Homo sapiens: one gene and its partners. The protein of the gene in region 5 purifies or fractionates together with the protein of the main gene of each other region. This does not show direct contact. Each region holds a gene or a part of one and is shown on either strand. Other genes may lie near its edges. The genes, in order: ALG6, STEAP3, TBCD, CP, ACBD3, WDR12 and PPM1H.

Evidence for each region.
Region 1: the proteins of ACBD3 (region 5) and ALG6 purify together in Homo sapiens (pull-down; one large-scale study listed by IntAct). This does not show direct contact.
Region 2: the proteins of ACBD3 (region 5) and STEAP3 purify together in Homo sapiens (pull-down; one large-scale study listed by IntAct). This does not show direct contact.
Region 3: the proteins of ACBD3 (region 5) and TBCD fractionate together in Homo sapiens (co-fractionation; one large-scale study listed by BioGRID). This does not show direct contact.
Region 4: the proteins of ACBD3 (region 5) and CP fractionate together in Homo sapiens (co-fractionation; one large-scale study listed by BioGRID). This does not show direct contact.
Region 6: the proteins of ACBD3 (region 5) and WDR12 fractionate together in Homo sapiens (co-fractionation; one large-scale study listed by BioGRID). This does not show direct contact.
Region 7: the proteins of ACBD3 (region 5) and PPM1H purify together in Homo sapiens (pull-down; one large-scale study listed by IntAct). This does not show direct contact.

Annotation. Positions count from the first base shown.
Region 1 is NC_000001.11:63,435,888-63,439,913, reverse strand, and holds the end of ALG6 (dolichyl pyrophosphate Man9GlcNAc2 alpha-1,3-glucosyltransferase), read right to left. Parts: intron 3,092-4,026; coding exon 2,894-3,091; 3' UTR 1,361-2,893; downstream 1-1,360.
Region 2 is NC_000002.12:119,260,813-119,264,283, reverse strand, and holds part of STEAP3 (metalloreductase STEAP3), read right to left. Parts: intron 1,228-3,471; coding exon 946-1,227; 3' UTR 1-945.
Region 3 is NC_000017.11:82,922,047-82,926,858, forward strand, and holds part of TBCD (tubulin-specific chaperone D), read left to right. Parts: intron 1-1,605; coding exon 1,606-1,687; intron 1,688-2,892; coding exon 2,893-3,011; intron 3,012-4,353; coding exon 4,354-4,445; intron 4,446-4,812.
Region 4 is NC_000003.12:149,214,732-149,219,543, forward strand, and holds part of CP (ceruloplasmin precursor), read right to left. Parts: intron 1-4,812. UniProt on the Homo sapiens protein: Multifunctional blue, copper-binding (6-7 atoms per molecule) glycoprotein. It has ferroxidase activity oxidizing Fe(2+) to Fe(3+) without releasing radical oxygen species. It is involved in iron transport across the cell membrane.
Region 5 is NC_000001.11:226,158,408-226,163,219, forward strand, and holds part of ACBD3 (Golgi resident protein GCP60), read right to left. Parts: intron 3,283-4,812; coding exon 3,124-3,282; intron 952-3,123; coding exon 777-951; intron 1-776. UniProt on the Homo sapiens protein: Involved in the maintenance of Golgi structure by interacting with giantin, affecting protein transport between the endoplasmic reticulum and Golgi. Involved in hormone-induced steroid biosynthesis in testicular Leydig cells.
Region 6 is NC_000002.12:202,873,761-202,878,529, forward strand, and holds the end of WDR12 (ribosome biogenesis protein WDR12), read right to left. Parts: 3' UTR 501-4,769; downstream 1-500.
Region 7 is NC_000012.12:62,927,887-62,932,698, forward strand, and holds part of PPM1H (protein phosphatase 1H), read right to left. Parts: intron 1-4,812. UniProt on the Homo sapiens protein: Dephosphorylates CDKN1B at 'Thr-187', thus removing a signal for proteasomal degradation.

The DNA of each region.
Region 1 (4,026 bases), about 160 Mb from region 5:
AACTGTTACTATAAATTATATAAATTACCTTCATTAATTATGTTCTTCATACTGTTTAAGAAATTTATTCTGATACAGTGCTTATAATAGGATGTTACCAAAAATATACTAAAAAAGGATTATTATAGCATTGAAAACTAACCTTAGGTTATAAGCCAAAACATTTTATAAAGTAATCTATGTTAGTCAGGTAATACAGAGTTAAGAAGTAGATTGGTTTCATATATAATTCAAGTTATATAGGTATGTGCTTAATGCTATTAAACCAGTTACTGTATGTTTGACCTCTTGATATACTAAGCTTTTGCCTTTTAGAACAGCTGGGTCTGCTGAGAATCATTTCCCAGTTCTTTTCATTGTAGATCAGATGACTCTCACTTTATCACCCTTGGAGGCCACATGAAGGACAAAGCAGAAAGATCCACACACACAACTAATGTTTATATGAGGGGAGGGGGAGTTGCAGGGGATATACTTGCCCTGATCTTCCAATGAACATAACAGAAGAGAGACCAATTGAGACTTGAAACCATTGCGTTACTTTAACCATTATTTAGTTATATCCTATCCATCTCTTTCTCTCTGTTGAACAGAGAGGTTCCTTTGGCTGCCCTGACTTTTGTAAATGTTTCACTCAATTTGTTGTGGTTTATCATTTGGACAGAATGCTACATTGGGGATTTTTCGCCCCCACTAAGTCCTCAAGGGAAAATGACTTCTGTATGCCTCATATATGATACATGAACATACACCCTATTCTCTTCATTTTAAGAAGCAAACCTAAGTTTTTTGGCAGCTGAGAAAACTGCATTTCTCAGAAATACCTCCTCCATCTAAAACGTACTTGAACATAACTTTGAAGGGCTTATTTTTTGACAGGTATATTAATGAAGAAAGTGAGGAATCTATCTTTAATATTTTTGCATAACCTATATGTATTTATATGAAAACATCCCTATAGCCCTGAGTTTAGCTAAGAGAAATGCTTTGGACCTTGCCTACTTCTGTGATAATTCATCACTGGATATTTTTGATATTTTGCTTTTTTTTGAGATGGTGTCTCACTGGTCTCAAGCGATCATCCTGTGTCAGCCTCTCAAATACAGACCGCTGTGCCTGGCCTCTGTTTCTGGTATTTTGTTTTGGTATTTTGGAACCTAATCCCTCTAAGTTCAATATAAACTCTTAAACCGGTTTTTAATAGATACGAGGGATACTTATAAGATAACTGCTACAAGTCTCTATAAAAACTATAGTGCAACTCAGTATGATTAGATTAAATCATCTGAAAAATGATTTAAGAATTTACCTATATGGTACCTTACAGAATTTACCTAGATGATACCTTGAATCAGGTGCATTTCATTTTACTAATATATGTACATAATACTTTTATTTCCAAATAATAAAGTTATGCTACTCCAATTATTTATAACTTCCTCATCATTTATCTAAGTCAACATTCTATGTTAAACACAAGTGTACTATTACAAAAAATATTTTTAAAAATAAAGCTACACCAGCCAGCCAAGATGCTGACATTTGGGCACAGTGATTACAGATGGTGACCATGGACAGCAATGTTCTTGCTGATTCGGCAGTGATTCAAGGCTGCTATTCTGCGTTGACCTGCCCTTTGAGTCTTTATGCACATTTGCTTTGAGAAAGAAACCTTTCTAGATTTTTGCTTTGTCTAAACCCACTTCCTTTACCAGACTTAGAAACACATACCTTCTTATATCAGCCTGTGACTGTCCGTGTCTAGAACCAGTTTTTTTTTGTATGTGGTTTGATTTGCACTATATTAAAATATACCACCACTTAATATAGTTTAATGGCTATCTTATGAAAGAAGAAATATATTCCTTAAAAAATGTTGATGGGAAAATGATTATCTTTATTACAGAGGCTAAAGAAAACATATCTTTATATGAGAAACTGCAACATGGATATCATGTATTATTTTTACCAGTTGAATACTATAATAAATATTGGCTTCTGCTAATACAGGGTGATACAGTATTAATAGGATGAAGTTAACATGAATCAATGCTCTGGCAGTGGTAACCCTGAACCATGTCAATAATAATATATATATAATATAATGTTTAATTAAACAGAATGGTTCTGGAAGTTTAGAACCAGTGATTATGTGTAATTTAGAAGACTTCACTCAAACCACTTAAAGTTAAGTTAAAGCTTACATTTAAATTCAGGAAAATTCATTTTTAATTGTATTAAAATATGCATTCTTGGAAATAAATAAGATTATGGTTTATTTGCCTTGTTAAAACAATCAAATTTGCATGTGTAATAAGGCATATTCAAACTTCAAGCAGTTTAAATTGCCTTCTCAGTAATTAAAAAGATTATCACAAATTTAATTCCCTAAGATATGACTTCTAAACAGTGAAATACACACTACTTGCATTCTAAAATGTAAGTTTGAATACCAAAATTAGTGATTTCCATTAAAAAGAAGGGGCTCAATTCTCCCATGAAGCTCACTATATGGTCTGATGAAGGAAGTAGGTTTAGACAAAGCAAATATCAAGAAATATTTCTCAGTTTTTTAAAGACATTTAAAAAGTGCATTTCCTGAGTAAACAATGGGATTAAGGACATGTTTCTCTTTTTTCCCCACTTGAATAGCTGTGAATAATAAAACCACATGTTTTGGCCAAGCAGTACTTAGACAAGCCTCCATTGGTCTTTGGTCTCCATATACATTTATTTTGTGTAGACAACAATGACTTTTCACCATTTCCTTTCCTGTGGTTCCATGGTTCTCAAAATGGTAATTTCATTTATACATAGCAAAAAGTTCACAAAACCTTTCAGCACTGTTCACATTTTCACATTTGTTTAGGAAACAATTTGTTTAGGAATACAGCTAGCTGATTTTCTTCTGATTTCTTCCACTTTTGGAATCCCACATAATAATAATGTTAAAGTATACCAAGAAGAACAGGAAGTTCAAGCAAGATACAAAACACACCAATACAGAAAACAAGTCCGGTAGTTTCTGAGGAGGATCCAGTGTGACAGTCATCAACGTCAGAAGCACCATAGTGATGACTGAGATAAGAAACTGCAAGGAAAAAAAGGATTACTGAGTAGTATAAAAGGTGAAATTTAAATGTGCTGGAAACATTGACTTGTAGCTATTAAATGAGCAGAATTAAAGGTGAGGGTTGAGGGTCTAATTTATTCTGGTGTATCTCAACTTTGACTTCCTATTAGAATCATATGAGGAGTTTTTAAAATCTCAATGCCCACATCACACCCCAGACCAATTAAATCAGGCCTCAGTACTTTTTAAAGCTCTCCAAGTGATTCCCATGTGTAGCCAAAACCTGAGGACCCCTGTCTTCTTATACTTCCTACCACCAAGGCACTGAACAAAGGTATCTGGGACAAATATTAATGCTAGTCAGGGTTAAATTTATAACATCCCCTGGGGTCCAACAGGATATAAAATTCTAAGCTAATGGGTACAAATGTATAGGTAGCTAGAAGAAATAAAACCTAGTGTTTGGCAGGTCAGTAGGCTGAATATAGTTAACATTAATGTACATTTTAAAATAGCTAGAAAATAATAAGTTGAATGTTCCTAGCATAAAGACATATTTTTAAGGTAATAAATAGCCCAGTTACCCCGATTTGATCTTCATGCATTACATGAATGAATAAATGAATCAAATTATCACATATACCCCCAAAATATATACATCTATTCTGTATCAATTTTTAAAATTCTAAGCTAACCTTGAGAACCCATCTGTGAAAAAGTTTTCCATGGCAAATGGAAAATTACATTTCATATTCGCTAAATGCTTTCAATGAGTAAAGCACACGAAGGCACATGAAAGAAAATGAGGTCCTCTGGCCTCAAAGAGTTTTCCATCTACTGAGGGGAATGTTAAATAAAATCACAAAGTCACACTGGCTTAAATACCAAGCTGAGTAGTAAAAATAATTAGCACATTTATTGTAGTTGTGTGGTCATCAGTTAGTGTGGTCTTC
Region 2 (3,471 bases), on a different chromosome or scaffold from region 5:
CCCTAGAGTGTTTTCTCTTGCTCTCCCCCTTGGGCTGATTTCTAAAGGGTCTGCTCTAGGCCTTCCTGGGAGTCATTCAAACTGAAGATGGAAAGGGTGAGAAGGCACAGTGGTTTAAAGGACGCTCATCGCCAGGTTAAAGGAGGGAAGGAAATTACACTTGTTCCCAAGCCAGGCTCACTAATGGCTCTGGAAAGGAGGTGACGTCACTCTCACAGGAGGATCCATTTGCAGGCTCTATGGTGACTTCTGACTTTCAGGGAAAATGTCTCCCCCACTCAGCAAGGATGAGGTGGAGCAGCTTCAGCCCAATCCCTCCATCCTCCCACCACCGGGCAAAGGACCAGGCACAGACTCCAGGCCGACTGCCTGATTTTCCTCCTCCCCAGGCCTCCTGCTGCTGCCCCAGGTGGAGGGAAGAGACCAGCCGCTGCTCACATGCTCCAGGGATGGCTCTGGGCAGAGCCGTTGCCTTCCCTCCCCTTCAGAGCCCTAGCTCTGCAAGAGCCTTGGGGAAGTAGCAAAAGGGAAGTTGTGGGGGTGGGGTGGGCAGGGATAAATCGAACCCACCACAGCACAAGCCTCTTCTGTACAAAAAGTGTGTGTATATCTCTGCAAATGTCACAATAGCATGATCTGCTCTTCTCTTAACGTACGGCACTTGTTTTTAAATCTACAAGTTGAAATCTCAGAGACCCAACTTTTTAGCTAGCTATGTATAATTGCAAATCCTGTTATATATGTGGAATATATGTAAATACATATACACATATGTGTGTATATCATTCTGAATAGTACTGCATACATTTGAGTCCCAGGAATTTGGACCTCAAACCTCCTATTTGCACACAGTTATACCACTTTGCACCACCAAGAAAAGAAAACCTAACGGGCTCAGGGCACCGTCCCTCGTGTGCCCGGGGTCCAGAGCCCAGGGCAGGCACCTCATACGTGGCTCGTCTTCTCGGCCAGGGCGTGGTCTGTGGGCAGCGTGAACTTGATGGTGCTCTCCCTCTCCCAGCCTCTCCGGATCCTGGCGAGTCTGCGGCTGATGCAGGGCAGGAGAAACAGGGCTTTGGCCAGGATGACGACGCAGGGCACCAGCAGCGTGAGCGTGAAGGTGGGAGGCAGGTAGAACTTGTAGCGGCTCTCCTCGAAGGCGCGGGTCCAGCCGTAGGTGAGCGTGTGCAGTGTGCTCAGCACGAGGGCCACAAAGCCCAGTGAGGACTGTGGAGGGAAAAAAAGGCTGGAGTGAGGGCGAGGGGATGACAGATGCAGTGATCCTGCCAACGACTCATCTGCTGGCCTGGCGGAGGGGAAGGAGGGTGGCTTTAGTACTCACCGCTATGGGTTGGAACCCCAGTCCTGTCACTCTCTTAGTGTGATCTTATGATAACTCTCAACTCTCTGTGCCTCAGCTTCCACAACAGGAAAATGGGAATAATGCTTCTATGCTGAAGGTGTCTAAGGACCCACCAATTCACACGGATTCCATACAATAACTATATGACCATGCTTTTTCCTTAACTTTGTTATTTGTTATCTCTGGAGGCTGCTGGATGATTTCAGATGGAATTAAGTTCAAAGAAGTTTAAAAAACATTTAAGGCCTGCTGCGGTGGCTCTCGCCTGTAATCCCAACACTTTGGGAGGCCTAAGTGGGTGGACTGCTTGAGCCCAGGGGTTCAAGACCACCCTGGGCAACATAGTGAGACCCTGTTTCTACAAAAAATACAAAAAAATTAGCCAGGCTGTGGCAGCATGTGCTTGTTGTCCCAGCTACTTGGGAGGCTGAGATGGGAGGATCACTTGAGCCCAAGAGGTCAAGGTTGCAGTGAGCCAAGATTGTGCCACTGCACTACTGCACTCCAGCCTGGGTAACAGAGCAAGACCCTGTCTCTAAATATATATATACATATACATGTATATGTGTGTGTGTGTGTGTGTGTATAAATTTTACTAGTTATGTGTGTATTTTAATGTATATTAGAGTAACAAGTGTCTGCTTGCATACCAAAATCATAATTTCACAGATAACATTTGGCCTAAGTTAAGATCAGACAAAAAGTGGATTGATTTTAAATTAGCTTGAAGATAAATGCAGAGTAAATAATTTACAGATGGCACGTGGATTTGGCACCAGTAGCGAAGGGGACTCACGGGGCCTGTGGTCTGGGTGACCTGGCACCGTATAGAAAGCCCCAGAACACCACACAGATGCCCTCTGTGCATGCTAGACCTTCACCTCCCACCCCACACTGGGTTATAAACAACCCGGGTGGAAACCCCGCTGGGCCTACTCTTCCATCTGGAGGAGATTAGTGACCGTTGGGAGAAGAGACCATCCCAACTCTAAATGGAAATGGTCCCGGCCATTTTACAATGGAGCTTCACACCCCTTGAACAATGTGTGGGCTTTTGTGGGTCACTTCCAGCCGAGAGTGGCTGATCCACCACCCAAAGCATGACTTTCTGTAAGAGATGCAATGTGAAAATGGCTGGGAAGTGCTGCTCTATGACTCCAGCCTCTTGGCATGTACGAGTTCTCGTGGACCACGAAGGAAGAGATGCAGGTTCTACTGTTGGTGCTGGTTCAACTGATATGAACCCTGGGCAGGCGACTTAATCAACTTCAGTGGGAGATAAGTAATTTCCAAAGCTAAAGTCAGAGGGGGAAGCGCTGAGTAGTTGCAGTAGCCTCCATCTAGTCCCCTAGACAGGGCAGGCAAGTGACACAGCAGAGGGCACCGAGAGCGAGGGAGTCGTGGCACAGGGGTGCTCTGACTGAATTCTGCTAGCACTGGTGAGCCACTGAGAGCTTTGGGAGAGACCTCCCACGTCTATTACACAGGGATGGAAATAGCGATGACCCATCAAGCAATGAACACATATGCATTTTCTCCAAGGAGACATTGCGAGGGTGTAATTTAAGTGTGGCGGCACACTGAGACCTCTGGGTGGTCTGCATGGACTGAGCCTCCTGGATTCCCTTCTAGCCCAGCTTGTTGGCATCAATCCAGAGCCTCGGCTGACAGACGCTTCTCATTTGCACTCCCCTCAGAAGTGTTTCTAAGTGGGTCTGATTCCACATTGGGCCCCGTTCTTGCTCCTCCCTGGTGTGTGTGTGTGTGTGTCCCTTCATTTCCTGCTCCAGGACAGACACCAGGACAGTGAACGTCAGTGAGTGAAAGAACATGGTGTGGGAGAATTGCTTGTAAAGCTTTTGCTAAAGATAATAATAAACATTTTCCAATGGCTGCACACTACAATTTCACAGACAGGTTCTCACGTTCAACATTCTTGGGCCCAAGTAAAATAACCAAATAAAACCTTCTCTATCCTTCCTCACCCTCTCTGGTTCTTCTTGGCTTTGTGTCCATTTTTGGAATCTTCTTGGCCCAGTCTTTAACAACTTCTGGCTCACCACGAAGAGTGAGGAAGCCACGATTGGCTTTATGCTGTCACCCACAGT
Region 3 (4,812 bases), on a different chromosome or scaffold from region 5:
GGGGTTACAGGTGGACTTTGGACTCACAGAGCTGTAACGCTGATCTCATTGCATAGATAAGAAACCATGGGCCCGGCGCAGTGGCGGGTGGATCACTTGAGGTCAGGAGTTCGAGGCCAGCCTGGCCAACATGGTGAAACCCCATCTCTACTAAAAATACAAAAATTAGCGGGGCGAGGTGGCGCGTGCCTGTAATCCCAGCTACTCAAGAGGCTGAGGCAGGAGAATTGCTTGAACTTGGGAGGCGAAGGTTGCAGTGAACCGAGATCACGCCATTGCACTCCAGCCTGGGTGACAAGAGCAAGACCCTGCCTCAAAAACAAAAACAAAAACAAAAACAAAAAAAACCATGGTTACCAACGTTGACTAGGTTTTGATATTGAGGATGAAGAATGGAAGTACATTTAGGTGTCTTGTAATTCTCTGACTTCCTCCATGCTTAGCATTTCTTTTTCCTTAGCATCTTCAATTTTCTTATTTTTTTTTTCTTAAGGAACTTGAACATTCTGTAGGATCCAAGTACCGTTCTACTAATTGAATTTGAATGCATCATGATCAGTGCCTCAAAATTTTATTTCAAAAGTCCATGATTAATTCACACTGGCCATGATGCTGGTGCACTTTGCCCCTGGGATTGGCACAGGTGGTGACTCGTGGAATGCAGCACCCTGTAGACGACGCACCTCCTCTGCTCATGGCCCCCACCTGCCCCGCCCCCAGTGCCTCTCCAAGGCTGCTCTGTTGGCCTCGGCTCCTGGGCTTCGGGGGAGCGGTGGAAAGAACACGTGGGTTTGGTGTTTGCCACTTGCTGGCTGTGTGGTCACGAGAGGCTCCTCCGTAGGTGGCAGAGGTGGGGGTTCGAGGAGACAGTGGCACTGAGCCCCGCACGCGGCGGGACTGGTGACTCTCTGCCCGCTCCTGCTCTGTGCAGCAATTGCCGTCCCTCCCACCACGGTTCCTGGTGGCCTTGGGATGGGTTCCCGGGGGTCTCCTGCTGTCCGGCCCCAACTCCTGTTCCCAGTGCGCCCCCGGAGCCCTGTCTCTCTAAATGAGGCTGACGTGGCTTGGCCTGAAGGCCCTGCCCCGTTACTCTGGGTGCATAGTGTATGCCTTTTTCTTCATAACTATTTCTGGGAAAGAAAAATATGCTCCATTTTATTATTGTTCCATATTAGAAGACAGACATTGTGGAAGGAATAATCAGGTTATCCATTCAGTTTCTTAGTTGTAGTGGTAGTAAAGTGATGCGTGTATCTGACAGATGATGGTGAGCAGGCGTGCTGGAAAGGAGTAGCATGACTTAGGGGTTCTTTTGGTTTGGTTCGAAAGTCATTGCTGTGCCGAGATCTCAGGGTGACCCGCTGTGTCCCTGGTCAGGTCCTTCTCTGACCTCAAGGGTGACCTGCTGTGTCCTTGGCCGGGTGCTTCTCCAACCTCAGGGCGACCCGCTGGGTCCCTGGTCAGGCAGGGGCTGCTCTGACCTCAGGGTGACCACGGTGTCCCTGGTCAGGTGCTTCTCCGACTTCAGAGTGACCTGCTCTGTCCCTGGCCGGGGGCTTCTCCGAGCAGAGCTGCTGTGCGCTCACCGTGCTGCCTTTGTTTTAGGATGCAGCAGTCTCGGCCCTGGCTGCTCTATGCAGTGAATATTACATGAAGGAGCCGGGGGAGGCAGATCCCGCAATTCAGGGTGAGTGGGGAGCCCTTTTCTTGAAGACTCCAGGGGCTTCCAGCAGGAAGCTGCTGGGGAGTGTCTGGGCACGGAGGAGGCCTCGGTTGTGCAGTGGAGCAGAGCCACCACGATCATGGCTGGAGTGGGACTGTTCGGGTCTCAGGTTCCCAGCCGAGGAGCTGTGGGCAGGTCCTGCAGCTGCCCAGGATGTTGCATCAGCTCTGAACAGGTGGCTCAGCAGGGACGCGTCTCTGTTGACGGCACCCTCTTGCTCCATCACCCAGGCTGGAGTGGTGTGGCGTGATTCGGCTCACTGCAACCTCTGCCTCCTGAGTTCAAGCAATTCTTGTGCCTCAGCCTCCTGAGTAGGTGGGACTACAGGTGCCTGCCACCATACCCGGCTAATTTTTGTATTTTTAGTAGAGACGGGGTTTTACTGCATTGGCCAGGCTGGAATCGAACTCCTGACCTCAGGTGATCCACCTGCCTCAGCCTCCCAAAGTTCTGGGATTACAGGTGTGAGCCACTGCACTCGGTCAGTGTTTTTAGAATTTTTGTATGCACCGTGACATTTTTCTGCTGTGTGTTTCACTCGTTAATACATTTTGCTGTTTTTTCCTTCTTTATGAAAGTAGCATTAGGCTGGCTTTACGCCGTGTCCCGTGCGTAGCTGCTGTGCCGCCTCACTGTACATCCTGCACCCCCGTGCTGAAGTTCAGGCTTGCTTCTCGCACATCATGTTCGAGGGATCTGCTTCATGAATCGTACTTTTATTTTTAAAGTGTCACATGCACATATGTTGGCCCACAGTGTTCCTTTATGTCATATGATAGAACATGCATTATTAATCACGTCAAAAGTGTGTGAATCACCACTTAAAATTATTATAAGTATATAAAAATCATGCATTAGCTTGGCATGGTGGCACACACCTGTAATCCCAGCTACTTGGGAGGCTGAGTGTGGGGTTGAGGCTGCAGCGAGCTAAGCTTGCACCACGGCACTCCAGCCTGGGTGACAGAATGAGACTCTCTCAAAAAAAAAATTCTCTTTCTGATTCCTATTTTGAGGTAGGCCACTTTGGAAACGTGTCTGCTTTGGGAACCTCAGGCGGCTCCTCCTTTGTTCACTGTGGCTTTGCTCCTGTTTGGGGCACACGTCGGGTGTGGCTGTACACGATGGGCAGCAGAGGGCCTCTCTTCACACTCGTTGCTTCCTTTCAGAGGAGCTGATCACGCAGTACCTGGCTGAGCTTCGGAACCCCGAGGAGATGACTCGCTGTGGCTTCTCGTTGGCCTTGGGCGCCCTTCCAGGCTTCCTTCTGAAAGGCCGGCTCCAGCAGGTGAGGCTGGCCACGCGCAGTGGACGGGGCCTAGGGCGAGGGTGTGGGAGCCTCGTGTGTTGGGGCATGAGGTAGGCCCAGCCGTTAATAAACCCATCAGTGCTTGTAGCTGGGAGGGGGTTCCTGGAAACCGGCACCTGTGGCCAGGAGGAAGGGGGCAGAGGGCACCCAAGGTCTGTGGCCCCTTAGGGCCCTGGCGAACCCTTTGCTGTCAGAGGACAGACTTGAAAAAGCTGAATTCTGGGAGGGAGGAGAAGGTGTTGTTTGTAGAAGCAGCTGCCGAGAGTGAGGAGAACACAGTTGCCTTTGTGCGTTGTGGAGCCGGGTCCTGTTTTGGTTGCGGCCGTGCATCCTGCATCCAGGTCGGGGCAGAGGTGGTTCCACGTCCTCCCAGAGGTCAGCCCCACGCTGGCCTCAGTGACCTGCTCTCTCACGCTTTCCTGTGGTGCTGGTCCCACTGACCAACCTGCCGGGAACTCCTGCTTGTCTCCCCTCCGGCCACCTGGCGTCTGAAGCTGGAATAGGCCCTGGCCACTGGGTTCCCCACGCCCTTCCCTCCCCATGGGATCCAGCCTTGGCACTTCAGGATCTGCAGCTCCAGACGGACTCCTGCCTGTGTGGCGGGTGGGCCTCGCAGCCGCCATGCCATCTAAAACTCGCATGTGGGGGTTTATCCAGTTGAAACACAGATAAATGTGAAACAGGATCACTTGGAGATATGACAGATGAGGTTGTCGGGACCCAGCAGCTTCCTTTGTCAATACCCCAGGTCTCAGCGTAGGACAAAAGGGGGGGACCTCAGGTAGGGTGTGGCCAGACCCCCAGTGACACCCTGGGGTGGGGGCTGGCCGTGGAGAGGCTGGAGGTGACCTCTCCCCGGGTGTCCTTCCTGGGTTGTACTGGGGGCCGTGGAGAGGCTGGAGGTGACCTCTCCCCGGGTGTCCTTCCTGGGTTGTACTGGGGGCCGTGGAGAGGCTGGAGGTGACCTCTCCCCGGGTGTCCTTCCTGGGTTGTACTGGGGGCCGTGGAGAGGCTGGAGGTGACCTCTCCCCGGGTGTCCTTCCTGGGTTGTACCGGGGGCCGTGGAGAGGCTGGAGGTGACTCCTCCCCGGGTGTCCTTCCTGGGTTGTACTGGGGGCCGTGGAGAGGCTGGAGGTGACCTCTCCCCGGGTGTCCTTCCTGGGTTGTACCAGGGGCCATGGATGGCCGTGAGGAAGGTGGTGCCAGGAGCTGCCTATCTCATGGTGTGGGGTCTGTGGCTCCGGGCCAACATTGCCACCTCCCTAAAGAGTGCACTTTGTTATAGCTTATGGTTCTTCTGTGATTCTTTATTGCTTTCCAGGTTCTCACAGGTTTAAGAGCAGTTACCCACACTTCCCCCGAGGACGTAAGTTTTGCTGAGTCCAGGAGAGACGGCTTGAAGGCCATTGCGAGGTGAGTCCCAACAGTTCCTCCCTAAAGTCGTAAGTCTCTGAAAGGCCAGCAGATGAACGCTAAGGGGGATGTTTTTGCTCAGAGGCAGGACTTATGATTCTTCACTTCCTAGGTTTCCTCTCTTCCAGAGGATCGTCAGTCCCAGCTGCTGGAGGCTCTTTCATTCTCTTGCTGTCATAGTCGTAGTGAATGTTAAACTTCTTTAGGGACACTGGGCCCCTTGGAGAATTGGAGAATGTGTCCTGGCCCAAGGTTGGCAAAGAGGAGCTGACCCTGCCAGCCAGTGTTTGGAATGATCTCTGCACTCGTTGACAGACACGCACCTGGGGCCACGCCATATGCCCTCTCCTCCCTGCAGGCACACAAG
Region 4 (4,812 bases), on a different chromosome or scaffold from region 5:
CACTGGGGTGAACTCTGTCCCTAAACCCATAGCAAGGAATGCACAGAAAGAGTCTTAATAAATATATGTCTTAACAACAGCAAAATTGTTGCATCAAAGACTACTAAGTTTAAAAGCAGAGAGTCATTCAGTCCATATGACTGAGAGGAGGTCAATAAGAGTGCAATTTCAGTTAGGTACACAACTGCAGCTGCAAAGTCTACAGTACAAAGGTACAATTCCACTCTGGTCCCACCGGAACCCTGGACCAATCAATCTCACAGAGACTTGTCTAAGCCCCAGGGTAAATTTTCTTAAGAGTCTGAACACACTTTTATTTCTGAGAGATTGATTTGATAATATTTGGAGACTTTACTCCATGCTTTACCATGTCCTATTGGTACACATCTTACATAGGCCAAAGTTAAAAGTTAGCCCTCAAATTCTTAAGGCTTCATTTAAATAAAATGTTTCTTTATATTTTCTGAATGTAAATACACTTTGGCATACATCATGTCCTATTTTGATAAACTATAGCAGGCTTTGTCAAAATGATTTTATTGCATTGAAATGCTCCTGTATTAATCATTTCCTAAAATAGGAAGAGCATTGCCATAAACAAATACCTAAGACCAAGACCAAGACCTATATTGCCTAGGCTTTGTAACTAATTTTTCTAGGCAAAGTTTTTTGGGGGGGTTAAAATTGCTTTTAAAATTATTGATCTGAAGGTATAACATATCTAGGCGTTTTAACATCTGAAATTCCTTTTATACACATTGCAATATGCAAACTGCTTTTTGCATCTTGCCTTTTATTGTGAAAAAAACTGTCTTAACCAAACTGGAAAATATTTTACACTGTGTGACACTTTGGGAGAAGTCTATTTGTTTATGCTTTGTCTCCAAATAAACATTAAAAGGTCATTAGGGGCTCTCTATTTAATTTCGACAGCACAGCTTGAGGACAAAGGGCCAGTTACTGGAAGCTTGCAGGAAGTTTGCCAGTTAGATATTCAGCCACAAGAATCTATTATAGCTGTTCTTTCAACCAAATAATTCACATTTAATTGTAGTTCTTCCTGTTGACAACTGTAGTATGTTCCTTTCTACTCATTACTGTAGACATATCTCCCTTCAAGTAATCAATCACATTCTCTCTTTTTAGCCCCTTATTTAAAAAAAGAAAAGCCCGCTCCTATAATTTCTGGTAGTCTTAGACCCAGAAATGAGTTTTTAATAGTAGCATAACTATTTTTTAGTATTGCTTTGGTAAGATATTAATAATGCTATTCCCTCCCATAAATTTAGAATTCACTCAAGTGATCTTGGTTTATGCTTAGACGTGGTTCCCAAAACTTGGGTATTATAGGTGAAAAGTTTCTGGATTTTTGACTTCATTAATTGAGACATATATTTTTTATTGCTGCATAACAAATTATCACAAAGTAGGTTAAAACAACACCCATTTATAATCTCACTATTCTATGGGTCAGAGTCTGGCATGGTGTGGCTGGGTTCACTGCCTCAGGCATCACCAAGCTGAAATCAAGGGGCTGCTGAGCTGAGTACTTATCTGAGGCTCTGTGGAGAAATCTGCCTAGCTCATTTGGGTTATTGCCAGAATTCAGTTCAGTGGGGTCATAGAATTAAAATCCTTGTTTGCTTGCTGGCTATGGGCCGAGAGCCTCTCCCAGTTTCTTAAGGTCACCCGTATGCCCTCCTAGGTGGCCCCTTTCATCTTCAAGTCAGCTTCAGTGTGTGGACTCTTCAGATAATCTCACTGACTAAAACATAAATCATGAGAGTGATGTCTCATCCTGTTCACAGGTTCTGGAGATTTAGGATAGGATTTCTTCTGGGAGCCACTTTGGAAATGCTGCCTACCATAAACAAGAATCATAAGGAAAACAGTCAAAAATTAACTGCTGCAAGAATATGGCAGAGACTCAACCTAGGTATATATAACACAAATTCAAGTGATTTGCCGGTTCTAACCAGCCTTCCTCCACTGGCGCAGCATGAATGCAGTACCTAGTGAATTTTCTTTTGTCTGTGTTCTCAGGAGAAATAGGAACTTGATAATAAATGGAATTTGGTCAGTGTGAAATGTTAGTCACTTAATTAGCTCTTCCATACAAGCTGTCTTGTGTGAAGTGTTTGGAAGTGTACTGCACTAGCTATTGCTTGCTTTTTTTTTTTTTTTTTTGAGATGGAATCTTGCTCTGTCGCCCAGGCTATAATGTAACGGCGTGATCTCGGCTCACTGCAACCTCCACCTCCTGGGTTCAAGCAACTCTCCTGCCTTGGCCTCCTGAGTAGCTGGGACTACAGGCGCACGCCACCACACCTAGCTAATTTTTGTATTTTTAGTAGAGACGGGATTTCACCATGTTGGCCAGGCTGGTCTCAAACTCCTGACCTTGTGATCCACCTGCCTTGGCCTCCCAAAGTGCTGGGATTACAGGTGTGAGCCACCACGCCCAGCCCTATTGCTTGCTATTTTTTATTTGGCAACCTTGGAGAATGAGTCATTTAAAGTAAATTTTCCAGAAAATTTTAGCTAGTAATTGTACCTATTTAAGAATCATTTAAAAATTTAAAAATCATTTTTGAAGGGATGCTATATAACTTGGGAGGCCACTAGGCTGAGACAACATCAGCGCCTTGGGTTCCTACGTAAGCAAACCAAAACCCAATTCAATGTAGTAAACAGTAAAATGAAACTTCGAATCTGTAACTAGAGACTTTACCAATCAGAAGCCGCCAACTAACATCTAACTAGGGAGTCTCCACTTTAACCAGTCTAATATCTATTTCTTAGTCTGAGAATACGTTATAAAAGTTTCCTCCCTGCCCAGAGGAGCATTGACAGAACTGCTTGTGGTCTTAGGGCACCCAATTGCTGTGGCTGAATGCTTGAATAAACTTGTTAAACTTTCAATATGCCCAAGTTTATCTTTTAATAGGGGTAAAATGAATGTCATTAGTGCAAGCTTTTTCTTTAAAAATATTTTATTTGCTTCCCTGTTTTCCTAAACAGCGGATATAATGGAAAAAAAGTAACTTTTTTGATAACAATAGTGAAATGAACACTTATTGAATACTTATTATATCCTGATCACTCAAGATCATAATTATAGTAATTATGATTACCGTAAGGTGGAATGTTCTTTGTTGTCTAGTTTTTTGGTCAGGATTTGAGCTGTTATTTCTTCTTGGTCATTAGGCCTGCTTATAGTGACATCTTCACTGTACCATTTGTTTTGGAAACCTCTAATGGAATGAAAAACCCGGTAATAATGTTTGTAAGAACTGTATGTTAAGAAAGTTGCCAAGCCTGAGTGAGAGCCTATGAAGTCAAGTATAAAAGAGTTTTGTGATGGCCGTTCGTATACTTAAAAAAATTTTCACTTATTTCCAGCTTCCTAGAGGTCATCAGAAAAAAAAGTAATCTGAAGATAAGAGAATTACTATAATTTTTGCTATTATATAGTCAATTAATTCAGTAAATAATTAACTAATGCCTACTATGGACCCAGAACACACTATTGTGTTTACTAATTGTTTTTATATGTATGTCATTTATTTTAATTTGAATATATATAACTTAGGATCAGGAATTATCTCTTATAAAGTCTTTAACTACTTACTGATGTGTTGAAGTGACAGATAAGGCACTGACCCAAGTAAATAGCAGTACTGAGTATAAGGAAATTATTTTCCACTTCACTCTTTTAGAAATAAATATTATTGGCATTAATACCAGAGAAGTAAACTTTATTTTTTTAGTCCCCCCCAAAACCTATACATTTTTCTCTTTTAATATCTGCCAGTGTTTTCAGTTGCACTAACCCTGCATATAATCCCCTCAGGTGACTTTTCTATCTTATTCTGTTACCTGATTTGTTCTATAGCATGAATCTCTCCACATGAGGAGCAAGGAAAAGTTTTTACAATACAGTCTATGATTTTTCCTATCTTCCTATGTATCTTTTATTTACTCATTTAAACTTATTCAGAAATATTTATTTAGTGTCTCCTATATTCTAGGTACTAGTGACCAAGCACTAGTACTTGCATATGCATATACTAGTACTCTCAATGCATATTTTCCTGTTCATCATCCCAGACCTTCAAGATCAACATTCAGCTTAAACTCGATTCTTTACCTAAAATTCATATTACACTCTTTCACATCTTATTCTTCAGCCCATTTATTTCCACTCCTTTTTAGTCATCATACGATAAGAAGTGCCAACCATGTCTTGTGATACTCCATCATCCTTCACTGACTGGGCTAAACATGCTGCAAATCTGGGACAAAGAAGGGACCAAAAGGTTGCTATCTGCACACATCTATGCAAAAAGTTTAGCATAGTATTGGCAAAATTGCTGAAGCTGTATTCAAAATTCACTGGTAAGATATATGGGGGAAAAAAATCACAGAGAAAGCAGTCCCACCTAGAGTTTGCAAAACTGTAGCATATTGTTGAAGCCAGAGGAGATGTTAAAGTCACAGGACAATAACAAAAAGAGAGGTGGACTTTGCAACTAGAAGATGCTCCATTTTTCCTTTTAAGGAGCCTTAAGTATCTCTATTAAGTATACTTTTTAAGTAACTGATATGGTTTGGCTGTGTCCCCACCCAAATCTCACCTTGAATTGTAATAATCCCCACATGTCAAGGGAGGGGGCCAGGTGGAGGTAACTGAATCATGGATGTGGTTTCCCCCATATTGTTCTCATGGTAGTGAATAAGTCTCATGAGATCTGATGGTTTTATAAATGAGAGTTCCCCTGCACAAGCTCTTTCTTGGCTGCTGCCATGTAA
Region 5 (4,812 bases):
TTCTACAAGTACAAAAATCGTTCACAGGGTAACTCTTTTCTCATTTGACTCCTCTGATAGTCCTGTGAGGTTAACAGGACAGGTGCTTTGATTTTATATCCTATTGTTACGGACTGAAAGAAAGAGCAGAACAATCAGAGCAGTAATAACTTGTCTGAGATCAAACAAGGTAATGTCAAAGCCCAAAGAGAATCCAAGTGTTATGAGACTCCCAGTCCCATGTTCTTTCACCTAAACCAACCTCTCCTATGTGGAAGCAAAATACTTGGGGGCAGGCAGTTGGAGGAGGAATAGCAATGTGCTGTTATGAGCACTGCCTAACTATGGTGCCTAACACAAAGTCAAATGGACCCAATCTAGCTCTGCAGAACCAGCCCATGGTCTTAGGGCAGGGGAGTCCTCCCACTGGAGGCTGTCCAAGCCTCTGACAATGCACTGCCTGAAGGACATCTCTGAACTATGGCTAGTTACTCAGGTCCTCATGTTCCAGGACCACTATTAGGGTCTATGCCAGACTCACAGTAAAGACACTCAACCCATACAACTCCCAAATACCCTTATGACAATATAACATCATCGGTTGCTTCGATAACACATATTTTCTCTCACAATTGCCTGTGCAATTCTCAAGTCTGCCTAAAAGATCACCCAAAAGTTACTTTACACCTTAGAGGCTAACTAATGCAAAATTCATTTGCGACTGTTAAAAAAGAACTTGGGTTCCAATGAAACTAAAAACTCTCTCTAAGGCTGAATTCTAGGGTTGTCTATCGTACCTGTTGCTGTGCAAGCTGGACTTGATACAACTGCTGCATGTACTGCTGATAGTGTTGCTCCTGCAACTGGCGGATGAGAATTTGCTGCTGTTCGTAGTTCCCTGGATACTGTTGGGCTGCATACTGCTGGAACTGCACGGCAGTCTGGGAGTTTAAAGCTGCCATTATCTGCTGCCTAAAAACATTAAAAATATATATACTAGTCTGGCTACAGGAGATTGTTCATGACAAAATAAAATGTCCTTATTACTTACTTTTACAGTCTGTAACTCTTAAAAACAACTAAGCTAGTAATGTACACCAATTAGTATGTGTTCTGGGTCCAGAAGAAAGATTTAAGAAAATAAGCCTGGCCTCTAATTTTTTACTTAGGATTTTCCAGGAAAATTCGGGATGGAAGATAAGCATATGATCATCATCATCATGACCACCATCATAATTATTAACATTTATTGTGCCCTTACTATGTGCCATGCAGTGTTGAAAGTACTCACACATACTAACCCATTTAGTCCTCACAACAACCCTCTGACAGAGGGTTCAGTAACTTGCCCAAGACTATACTGCTAGCAGATGCTACAGCCTGATGCAAATCCAGGCAGTTTGGCTCTAGAGCTACACTAATTTACCACGATGCTTTAAGATGATGGATTGTCATCTCTGACATAGATGAGGTATTTAACTGTTGGCTATGGCTTCTGTACCTAAATACATAAAAAACAGTAAGAGGCAGAAGAATAGCTGGAAGATGTTACAGGTGGCCCTGGTAAGTATAAATAAAGCCAGTGAAAAATTAAGGGTCCACAGCATTTAATTTAAAGCCTGTCTTAATAGAGGAAATACTGAAAATATCTTGGCATGCTTAGTTTAGAGATACTCATATTCTTTTATAGATAAACCACATGCTTCTTCTTTTTTTTTTTTTTGAGACGGAGTTTCACTCTGTCACCCATGCTGGAGTGCAGTGGCGTGATCTCAGCTCACTGCAACCTCCACTTCCTAGGTTCAAGCGATTCTCCTGCCTCAGCCTCCCAAGTAGCTGGGATTACAGGCACCTGCTACCACGCCTGGCTAATCTTTATATTTTTAGTAAAGACGGTTTCACCATGTTGGCCAGGCTCGTTTCAAACCCCTGACCTCAATCAAGTGATCCGCCCGCCTCGGCCTCCCAAAGTGCTGGGATTACAGGCATGAGCCACCACAGCCAGCAACCACATGCTTCTTAACTTACTTATGTGACCAACTTAACAGAGACCTCAAAGCCATCTATTAATAGATAACAAAGCAAAGCCTCACAAACTCCTACATACAGCACAACATTCGATCCACCTAGGACAACCTCCCCCAAAAAAGAGCTGCATTCATAGTCTTTCTCCAAAGTTGAATGAGGGCCTGGATTAGTTTGAGGCTAGCACTAAACCTTTTTCTGAGGAACTACCCAGAAATAATGAGAAGAAATCAATGGACTCTCATGTTCTCTGGTTTAACCTACAAGCCATGCCACCCCTACAAACTCAGACTTACTTCCCAGTGTTTTATGGGTGTTAATCACTGCCTCCTTGTACCCACAGCTCCCTCTTGAAGAACCTGTCAGTCTCTGAGTCTCAAAGCCCTTACTGAGTAAGCAATAGTTGAAGCCTCCAAATCTTGTACTAAGGACTATAAATGGATATCTGACATAGACTGGACCAACAAGATTCTCTGTCCTGGGAAACTGCAACTGGGTCTCACAGATTCCAGCCAGTCTCTGTCAGATGCATGGAAACATAGACCAAATAAATCCTCGGACAGCCTTGCATATGCCAAAGCAGACAGTTGACAATTTGCAGAGAGCAAGGATGAAGCAGAGACATAAGCTGAGAGAAGCAGAGACAAGAAACAGAGAGCGCAACCAAGCAACCTCAGCTCCTGCTTCCAATCTCTGGGTTCTGCAAGTGAACCCCCAAACCTTCTAATACATTCCTTTTTTTTTTTGAGACGGAGTTTCACTCATTACCCAGGCTGGAGTGCAATGGCGCGATCTCGGCTCACTGCAACCTCCACCTCCTGGGTTCAAGAGATTCTCCTGCCTCAGCCTCCTGAGTAGGTGGGATTACAGGCATATGCCACTGCGCCCAGCTAATTTTTTGTATTTTTAATAGAAACAGGGTTTCACTGTGTTAGCCAGGATAGTCTCCATCTCCCAACCTCAGGTGATCTCCCAACCTCAGGTGATCTGCCCGCCTCCGCCTCCCAAAGTGCTGGGATTACAGGCGTGAACCACCACACCTGGCCCGCTCATTTCTTATTTTTATTCTATTTTTTTTCCATTTCTCATTTTAAAACATAAGCCACATAATAAACTTACTTTTGCTGCTCCAACCGAAGCCTTTCTTCTTCTATCCGTCTCCTTTCCTCTTCCTCCCGTCGAAGCCTTTCCTCTTCTTCTCTCCTACGTTTCTCTTCCTCCTTTTGCAGACGTTCTCTTTCTTCCTCTTCACGCCGCCTTCGCTCCTCTTCCTCCTTCCTACAAGGCAAAGATAGAGAATGAACCCTATACGTTGAATCCTGTTTAAAAATAAAACTTTAGCTCCCAGGGAAAACTGACATGACCTTTTTAGAGAACAATGTGGATATATACATCAAAATTTAAAATACATACACTTTACTAGCAGAAACTTATAGGGAATCAATCGCACAATATACAAATCACATCAAGAATAATTATTGTTGCACAGCAACAGAAATGTGTCCATCATAAGAAACTACTTAAGTCATTATGATATTCCTATACCCTGAAGGATCCCCTCTAATATATGCTCACAGCACTAAAAGCTTTTCCTTCATAATACCTGCTGTCATTATAATTAAATTTGTGTGATACATTCAGCAATAGATCTGCATTACCCATTAAACTAGATGCTCCATAGGGGAAGAGACTGCCTATCTCACACCACGACATCCTCAGGGCTTAGCACAGTGCTGGAAAGAACAAGCACTCGACAAACGTGTACAGAAGTAAAAAATCCACCCTGAAATATCGCAGAGCCAAAGGATAGAAATACATTGCCTAATATGTAAAGACATGTAATACACTTGCTTAATGAAAAAAAAAAAGGTGAATACAAAGGAAAAGATCTGGAAGGACATACCCTAAATTTATCAGTTATTATCTATGCAGAGGAGAGTGGAATTAAAAGAAATGTGGGAAAAAAGATTTTTTTCAGTTTGTGTTTCATATACTGCCATAAATGAAAATTTTATATTGCATATATTTGTGTATTATTTCTGAAATTAAAATTTTTTGTAAAGCTTTTAATTTAAAAAAGAACGGTTAACCTCTCAGGGCAGCCCTTGCCCAGCTTTCACCCACCCCACAAGACCCTTCCAAAAAGAACAGATCCTATTGTGCTAGGAATGGACATCTTCCGGGTCTGAGAGTGGTATGGTGTTCAGGGAGCCTGCAGACAGGATGAAAGGGAAGATTTCTAAGGAGTATCAGATAAGACACTATTTCATAAACCTACCACGAGAATTGTCTGGGCTACCTCACCTTTCTCCCCTCTAACTCCTATAAGTGATTAACAACTACCTGAGCCACAGCCAAGTCTCAAAATATTGTAATAACATGACCTATTTTTTTTTTTTTTTTGAGACAGGGTCTCACTCTGTCACCCAGACTGGAGTGCAGTGGCACATTCTTGGCTCACTGCAACCTCCGCCTCCCAGGCTCAAATGATCCTCCCACCTTAGCCTCCTGAGTAGCTGGAATTACAGGGACCTGTAACCACATCCGGCTAATTTTTGTATTTTTTTTTTGTAGAGATGGGGTTTTGCCACGTTGCCCAGGCTGGTCCTGAACTCTTGGACTCAAGTGATCTGCCCGCCTCGTTCTCCCCAAGTGCTGAGATTACAGATGTGAGCCACCACAGGCGTGAGCCACTGCACCCGGCCATGACCTACTTTTAATGTGTCACAGCTGGTACAGAGCAAGAAGGTTCACAAGCCAGAGCTTAAGCTTCAGGATAGATGAAGTCTACTCTTAAACACTTTAAAA
Region 6 (4,769 bases), on a different chromosome or scaffold from region 5:
TAATGTAGAGCTAGCTGCTGATGCTTCTCCTGGACAGGAGTCAAGTCTCTCATATTTCATAAATGCCTGTGGAATGAATTCTTTCTTTAGCTGTTGGATACAATGTTTAAATGGCTTGCACTAGGAAGAGCGTGGTAGTTCAAGCCTATAATCCCAGCACTTTGGGAGACTGAGGCAAGCGGAGCACTTGTGGTCAGGAGTTTGAGAACAGCCTGGCCAACATGGTGAAACCCTGTTTCTACTAAAAATTCAAAAATTAGCCCCATGTGGTGGCGTGCACCTGTAATCCCAGCTACTTGGGAGGCTGAGGCACGACAATCACTTGAACCCAGGAGGCAGAAGTTGCAAGCCGGGATTGTGCCACTAAACTCCAGCCTGGGCGACAGAGCAAGACTCTACTTGCACTAGTCTCTTAACAAAAGGAGGCAGCTCAGTCATTACATTTTAGTGTTGCATAAAACCTCTTTAGAAAGTGAAATAATTTAACACCTTTAAAGTACTTTTAAATTTCATTTAGAAGTACATTTACTGAACTGTTATTTAACTTTCTATCCTTTCTATCAACATATAATACACTTATACTAAGGGGAAAAAAGGGGTTTTCCTCCATTGTATAGACTTTTACAAGCTAACTAGACAAGAACATTAGATGACTTGGAATGTAGGGCTCCACAAATGGGATCCAAACCTAGAGTCTTAGTTTCTTTAAAGACTAATGGTCTTCACTTTTGTTTTTGTGCAAACCTCTGGTTAATCTCCCAAATAAAACCTCAGTTGATATTAGAAAACACTAAAAATTATTCTACTGTTTTGTACTGTTTTACTAAGGATTAGAGGTCTATTGAATCTGACATCACACAAAAAGCTCTATTTCTTCAAGGCATTCCAGTTTCTTTGTAATCTGTTGGATTTTACCGAAGACGTCAGGAGAAGCATTATAGGTCAGTGACAGTGGGGCCATGGAGAGCTATCTTCCCAGATACCCAAATGAGTAATTAGATACTGCAAGCTAAACATTCTGTCTCTTCCCTACTACATTTCTGTTTATTCAAGCAAAGCTAGAAACAGTATTAGAATTAGACACAATTCTAGAATTAGAATTATTATGATGATTTTAAATGTGAAGTGTTATCGACATCGTTTTAAAAATTATTTCCTCCCCCTGAAACCACTGAACTTCATCTGGTATTAAGTCTCAGCCATGTTATTACACTTTCACCAACTATACATAGAATTGTTTGACATGTTTCTAAACTTTGTATCAGATAGTACCTAACAAGATACTTTCTCTGTAGTCTTTATTACTCAGATGTATGTCGCACAGCTCCATTAATTGGTTACATACCTTCACACTAGGTACTTAACCTGTCTGCATTGTGGTTTCCTTTAAATAACATGAATGACATAATTACATGAATAATAGGATAATTTCTAAAATTCATTTTTGCTTATATACAATTCCTATTAGAATATACAGAAATTGATCTTTATACATTTATATACTATTACAGTAATACGTTTAGTGGCACGCTAAAATTGAAATTAATTTTAAAGGCAAAAAAATGCAAAGCTGAACATATTATTGTAATTTAGTACCCACAAATGTCACTTAAATTTATGTATTACTTTTTTTTTTTTTTTTTTTGAGACGGAGTTTCGCTCTTGTTGCCCAGGATGGAGTGCAATGGCGCGATCTTGGCTCACCACAACCTCCACCTCCTGGGTTCAAGCAATTCTTCTGCCTCAGCCTTCCAAGTAGCTGGGATTACAGGCATGTGCCACTATGACTGGCTAATTTTGTATTTTTAGTAGAGACGGGGTTTCTCCATGTTGGTCAGGCTATTCTTGAACTCCCGACCTCAGATGATATGCCCACCTCAGCCTCCCAAAATGTTGGGATTACAGGCGTTAGCCACGGCGCCCAGCCACATATAACCTTTCTGTTAGGCAAGTGAAGACACTTCCACACTCATTCTTTCCATTTATAAAAACATCATTCTTGTGCACGACATAAGATTGACAAAATATATACCAGTTAAGAGCTTGTCCAAGATAAGTCCAAGTTCAAATTCACTGCCATTTATTTCCTGCCTGTGTGACTGTTCAAAAACTTTAACATATATTTTTCTCTCCTATAAAATGCAAATAATTTATTACCTATAGAGGATTATTATGGTAGGATATAGTTTCATTGTTACTTTTATGGACACTGTAAGAAAATAATTTACTTCCTCAAATCTGCAAATCATTGGAACTGCTATTAGAACAACCATTAGGTTTAATTCTGTAAAACTAACCAGCCAAAAACGTTTCTCTCCTAAGTTATAATAAAGATATATTTGGTTCAGGCTGGATGCAGTGGCTCATGCCTGTAATCTTAGCACTTTTGAGGCCAAGGTGAGATGATTGCTTGAGGTCAGGAGTTGGAGTCCAGCCTGGGCAACATAGCAAGACGCCATCTCCACAAAAATAAAAAAAATAGCTGGGTGTGGCAGCATGCAATTGTACTCCCAGGTACGTACTCAGGAAGCTGGGGCAGGAGGATCCCTTGAACCCAGGAGTTGAGCCTGGATGGCAGAGCTAGACTATGTCTCGTAAAAAGAGATATATTTGGTTCATATAACAAAATACTGTTATTGTGTTTGATACTTAATCTATGATAGTCAAAAATGTCAACAATGAAGTGACTAAAATGTTCTTGCTGTTTCTACACCTGGCAGTTTCTGGCTAGTAAAATCTGGATTTCACTTGCCTAATGAAATCTGATTCTAATTAGTGGCTTTTTAAATAAAAAAGATATTATTGGAATATCCCTTGCATATAGTCTTAAAATGTCATATTTTTTCCTTTAAGAATAGGAGCCATAGTAATATCTATTAAAAAATCTGTATTTTTGGCCAGGCACAGTGGCATGCCTATAATCCGAGCACTTAGGGAGGCTGAGGCATGAGGACTGCCTGAGGCCAAGAGTTCATAACCAGCCTGGGCAACACAGCAAGACTGTCTCCACAAAAAAATTTTAAAATCAGCCAGATGTGGTGACATGCGCCTGTGGTCCTAGTTAGGAGGATGAGGTGGGAGGATCCCTTGAGTCCGGGAGTTAGAGGCTGCAGTGAGCTATAATCGGGCCGCTGCACTCTAGCTTGGGCAACATAGTGAGACCCTGTCTCTAAAAAATGAACAAAAATAAAAACTAGTATCTTTCAAAAAATTTAATATTTTCCTTATATTTGTTATATATAGTAAACTGTTACCTTTTTTTCAAAACTACGATACATCAAAAGAATTTTAGACTGTGTGAACAGATTTCAATGTTATTATCAGAAATTCCCAGATGGTATATATATATATATATTTTTTTTTTTGCAGGGTTGCTTGTTCCATTATATGCATTTTATATCAATTTAAACTTTTGTTTGTTCTTTCTCCAATAATATACTAGGAAGCATTCTGATATATTATTATGCATTGTTGACAACAGTTCCAAAATGGTAATTCCAAATTCAAAGGAAAAGAAAATATTGATCATCTTCTCATAGAAAAGCTATGTTTTTCTACAAAGGCCCCACTATGCCTGGCCAAGTAATTTCTTAAAACTTTATTTGGGCTGGGTGCGGTGGCTCATGCCTGTAATCTCAGCACTTTGGGAGGTCCAGGTGGGCAGACAGCTTGAGCCCAGGAGTTCAAGACCAGCATGGGCTACATGGCGAAACCCTCTCTCTACAAAAAAAGTAATAATAAAAATAAATTAAAAAATAAAAAATAAAAAATTGACTGGGTGTGGTCCCAGCTACTTGGAAGGCTGAGGTGAGAGGCCAGCTTGAGCCCAGAAGGTGGAGGTTGCAGTAAGCCAAGATTACACCATTGTACTCCAGTATGGGTGACATAGTGAGACCCTGTCTTGACAAAAAAACAAAAAAACCAACCTTTGATAAGAGAGCAAGTATCAACATTTTAAAGAACTGCACTACTATGGCAAGACAGCATAACTAGTACCGGTCAGCAGGTTCTGAGCACTGCATTGTCAGGTTCCTAGCTTTTCCCCAACCACGGGAAAGCAGCACCACTCATTTATCCAAGTGATTCTTGGGAATATATAAGTCCATGTAAAGCAGGCATCTCTGGTGTTCTGGTAGAGGAACTGGGACCATTGAAAGGTCTCATGGCTTTTGAGGGAAAGGGTGTGGAGCAATATCAGAGGACTGAATAGTCTAGGCATGTATTGACCTCTCATATTCCTTCTGTTCAGGGAGTAAGATCTAACCACTTGAGTTAACCAAGGAAAGGAGTTTGGCAGGGATTGATCAGAGACAATACTTGTCCAAGAGACTTGGTCACTTACATTATATCTATCTCAAGGAAGAATGCCTGAACTATGAATGTATTCTGCTGTGGAACCAGGATTGGGAATAGGTGGGGACCAGTTCTGGATGCCATTTTATTCTTTGTCTATGCATCTGATATATAGGCTTCTTTATCTTTAACCATCTAGTTTATACAGACTACATTCGGTCAGCCTAGGTTGGGTGAGTTAAGAAAGACATTTTAAATAACTGCCCTTAAGGATCATTTGAAGACCATCCAAAACAGGACTAGGAATTCATCTTTGTCCTCTCAAAGTTAGAAGATTTCCAGAGACTACAAATACAATAAAATTTATACCAATCAGCACAAAATGAGAAAAAGAAGGATTCTGTGCATGAATTTTCTGGCCACCTTTATTCACTATTTGGCATTAAAATATACTTTAAGAAATGGTAACTGGAGCT
Region 7 (4,812 bases), on a different chromosome or scaffold from region 5:
CTTTTACTAGTCTATATTATCTGAATTTCCTATAATGAGTATCTCATGGTTAAAAATGTTTTAAGTATTTCATTAGACACAGTGAAAAACCACCAAAGGTAGGCGTTCCACAGAACTGGATATGAATCCAAGATCTGCCACTTAAAAAGCTTTGTTACTTTGAACAAATAACTTACCTACGTTGCATTCATCTCATTAAATCCTTATACATAAAGTGCTTAATAGAGAACCTACACACAGGACTAGCTCAACAAATGACTATTGCATTTAGCAATTTTTAATGCCTCTAATAAAGTATAAATAGGGATAATCCTATCACTATATGGTATATGGGAGATGGGCCAAACAAATCAAATGCTATACCGTTCTTAAGCTAATAATTTGCAAAGTATCTACTGTAGTACCAAACTGGAAAGCTAGTGAAAACCACTTATCTAAAAAAACAACTTGGGAAAGGCTCCTCAACTCTTTGCCATAACATTATGTTGTATAATTAGGTTCAATCCTGCATCTTTTGCACCATAATTAAGGGCATCTGCTCTCCTTACATGGTCAGTAGGAAACACAGTCAATTATGGAGGGTCACAGAAGTAATGCAGATAAGTCAGAATGAAAATCACAGTTAAATAACTGCAGTCCCACCTACTCTCTCCCCCTTCTCCCCCATCTGCAAGGATGACAAAGATTCTCTCCTCCACCAAACTTGAGTCAGGCCTCTCTTCTCTACTAAGTCACAACGTTGGCGCCAATCCTGTTCCTTAAGCAAGAATCCTGTTAAGTCAGGTTAGCAAGAATCCCCCAAACTTGATACCTGCTCAAGTTCCTCATTCCCCACCTTTGATGTTACAAGTCTTTGGTCTGCTTTCAGCAAGAATCCTGCTAGGTCAGTTGAGTTTGGTTTAATGTCCCCGCTGAGTAACTTTCCATTCCACTGACCCCTCACACTCTACTCTTTGCCTACAAGTACCAGCTGTCAACGTGGTATTGAGCTGGGTTGTTTTCCTATATTGCAACAGACTTGAGTAAAGTCTTCCCCAGCATTGTAACAAGTGTCAGAATAATTTTTTTTCTCTAACAGCAGGGAAGGTCTTGGGCCTTCAGGTACAAAGCTAATCATAAGCTGGTTGGAAAAAACAAGTTTGCTTCCCTAATGTGACTTAAAGGCTCCAAATACTGAGATTTAAAATTACCCAGAAGCATTAAGACATTAAAATCAAAACAAAACTCCTGGTGCTGGTCCCTTTGAACCTTAATAGTCTATTTCATTTTAATTTAATTTCAAAGAAAGTACAAAAGGGGAAAGATTATGCTATAAAATTTTCTTGAGGATAATGACTATGTCTTATTATATTATGAATCCAGCATGGGACCAATGCTGGACACATAGTAGGAGTGCAATGATTTCATCAATTGAGAGAAATAATGGAAGCAGATGAATGATTATTTCCTGAAAAATGATAGCAAAAATTCAAGGGGACAAGCTAACTAATCCTCCCTTTAAATTAGGCAAATCACAGAACTATAAAGGCACCAGAGTTTATTTCTACCAAACATTGAGAATTAAAAATAACTCTTGAACATTAATGTATTTTTAGACAACAATTCCAGTATGCAGTTTTACATTTTCAACTAGTACTGCTGTAACCTTAATTGAAAGCACTGTATAGTGGGGTCATAGCAGAGATGCGGATGTCTACCTAAACTGGGACTGAAACATATAGTAAACACCCCCCTGCATGGTTAAACCCTTTGCCTGAAGCATCACCAGTCCTTGAAAGAAGCTGATGCATTTTCCTAAGAAAAGAGACATCCCCAGGAGCTCCACCTAAGGGGGATGATTTCTTTATAATGCTATATCTGAAATATGAAGGAACGCTTAGCTGTCTGCTTTAAAATAGGAAATTAATACCTTTTGCAAGTCACCAGAAAGGTAGCTGAAATAGCTCAGGCTACTCTGGACTTGTAACTCATCTGCAGATACCCTCACCCACTCCTTTTTATCCTTACATAAGAGTAGAGAACCTCAAGTTTCTTCAGTTGCAAAAGTCAAACAGGAAGTTTCCAAGCAGGAGTTCTGCAAAGAGGTATCAGTCAGTAAGAGGGGCAGGTATGCCAGGAAAAGTTAGAAGGGAAAAAGAAAGGCCAGGGGATTTCCGAGCTTTGGGGCAAGAAAGAAATAGCGGTTTTTGTGTCTTCACCACCACCCAGCCAACTAATGCCATTTATTGGTAATAAGCAATTAGTGCCAATGACCAAGGAGACAGACAGCCTGCAGAGTCCAAAACAAATCCAAATACCTGTAGGCAGCTGGCTGGATTTAAATAAGGTTATTCCATCAAAAATTTCATAATTTTCAACTCTGTGAGACATACACTTATATGATATACATTTAACAGACACTCTCAAAGTAGCTTTTGTTTCTACTTATGTCCAGGGGTACTTTTATAAGAAATAGGAAAAAAAATTTATAGTTATAGCTATAACCGAAGTAAAATTAGCTATACTTAATGTATTCTTTCTGTACAAGTAAACAAATGTATCACTGATAAAAACCTGAATATGATGCATTAACATACACAATATTGTTGCTCAAAACCACAACACATTCTTTGGCATTCCCTACGTCTGTAGTTTCAGGCACAAATTCCATGCCTGCTGGCATCTCTAAGACCAACTGTTTCATCAACAGGATAAAAATCGGGCAAACAGGTAAAAAAAGAAAAAAAGCCAAAATGGGTTCCCAACCCATTATAAAAATGAACCAACCTCCACTTGGGTGGTATTTGAGAGAAAGGAAGTAGCTGCCGCCTGGTCTCTGGGTCAGACTGTTGCTCCCCAAGGGCTTTATCAAATGAGCAAACCAAACAGGCTCAGCCACTGATTTCAAAGCCAAACTTAAAACTTGCTAATGCATGTTTTTAGAAAGATTTTAGCTTAGTAGATGTTATCTATAACTACAATGCTTTACAGAGCTTTACAACCTTGCAAATACCCCTTAGCCAAGTGGCTAAACTTTTCAGCTGTAATAGGAAGCTTTTCAAGAGCTGGGAAATTCCATCTAGGACAATGCCAATGAATACTGAAATGAACGAAAATCTTCAGTTTCTGCAACCTCAAGTCTAGCAGGGATTGCTTACGGCTAATTCTCTAGTTCTATAGCCTATAGAGTCTCTCTTCTTGAAAGGGATTAACAGTAAGTGGCAAAAGATTAGACCATTTCTCCTTAATTTTTCTACCATCTCAAAGGGTCAGTCATCAACATTAACTCATTGACCAAAAGATGTCAATTTTTCCTCCCAAGGAAGGCTTGGAACGTGACTCACTTTCTAGAGAGGTAAACAGATCACTTCTGATTCAGGCATTAGCTCCTTAGTACAGTTCTTATCACCACAATTTGAGCAATCTTCCTACCTATTCAACCCCTCTCAGGTACCTTCTAGTACAAAGAGAACAGAATTTCTTCTCCCAGTAAATCCTGTAGGAAAGGGCAGCATTACTGGTGGCAGCTTCTGATCACAGCCACAGTCCCTACTTGTCTTTCTCTTTCCTTCCCTATTTCAGCCATTTTGATCATTCAGGATGCATTTTTGCAGGAAGATAAACTAACAGTTCAAGATATAAGGAAGCGGTACAGTATATTATCTGACAGGGTTAAAGGTGAGAAGAGAGAGATGGCCAAGACTTTAGTGGCTATTCCTGGGTACAGATGAATACATCATAATTTAATCTACTGTAGAGAACGAGTTTGGTGTTGCGAGCTCTGGAGTCAGACTGCCTGGGTTCACACACAGGCTTGACCCTGGGCAAGTTGCTTAATCACTCAGTGCTTCTGTATTCTCAACTATAATATGGAAATGATAGTGCCTACCTCATTAGGCTTTTATGAAAATCAGATGATATAAAACAGTATAAGCACTAAAGAGTAAGCATTAACTATGTTAGCCATTACCAATAGTATATATTTAAGAAGAATGAGGTAATTCTGTGTTTACTTATGAATACTGTTAATGACATAGTGTTTTGTGAAAATGCTACAGAATAATATGCTTAGTATGAGTCTATTTTGAGAAGAAAAAAGAAACGCATGATATGTATTTATGAGGGCATCCAAAGAAGTCTGAAAGCCAAATATCACCCAAACATTGAACCCTCATTACTCCTAGGGAGTAGGTGAGGGCTGGGGAAGAGGGGCTGACTTTTTTTTTTTTTTTTTAAATAGGTCTTTGCTTGAATTATCACACATGTATTATTTTTGCCACTAACTTTAAAATTTGTAACATTTTACAGTGGCCTTCCTAGGCTTCAAGTTGAATATCTCTCATGTTTTATTCTAGGAAAAAAAAATTAACTTTTTAGGGATGCGGAAATGGAGGCCCAGAGAGGATGGGGGGAGCCCTCTAAGCACTCTCTCATGCGTGTCTCATTGCATCCTGTGCCTACCATAGGCATGCAAACACTCTGAAATTCGTTCTTTCCTTTCCCTCATGCTTATCTGAGGCTTTCCTTTTACTGTGTCCAAACGGCTTCCACCTTCAGTGTTTCAGTATCTTCTTTCCTACCTCTCATAACTTTCTCACCATTGCCTGCTTTTCCTTCTCGCCTTGACAGGCGCCCTCGCCCTGGGAAACTCACTGGAGTGGGGACAGATCTCAGGCGTTTGGCAGTCACAAGGACCCCCATCTACACAATTATACCACAGGGTATGCCTCCAAGTTGCTGTCTCGTAAAGGGTCCAAATGGGCTTTTTTTTTTTTTTTTTTTTTTTGAGAAGGAGTTTCGCTCTTGTTGCCCAGGCTGGAGTGCAATGGCGCG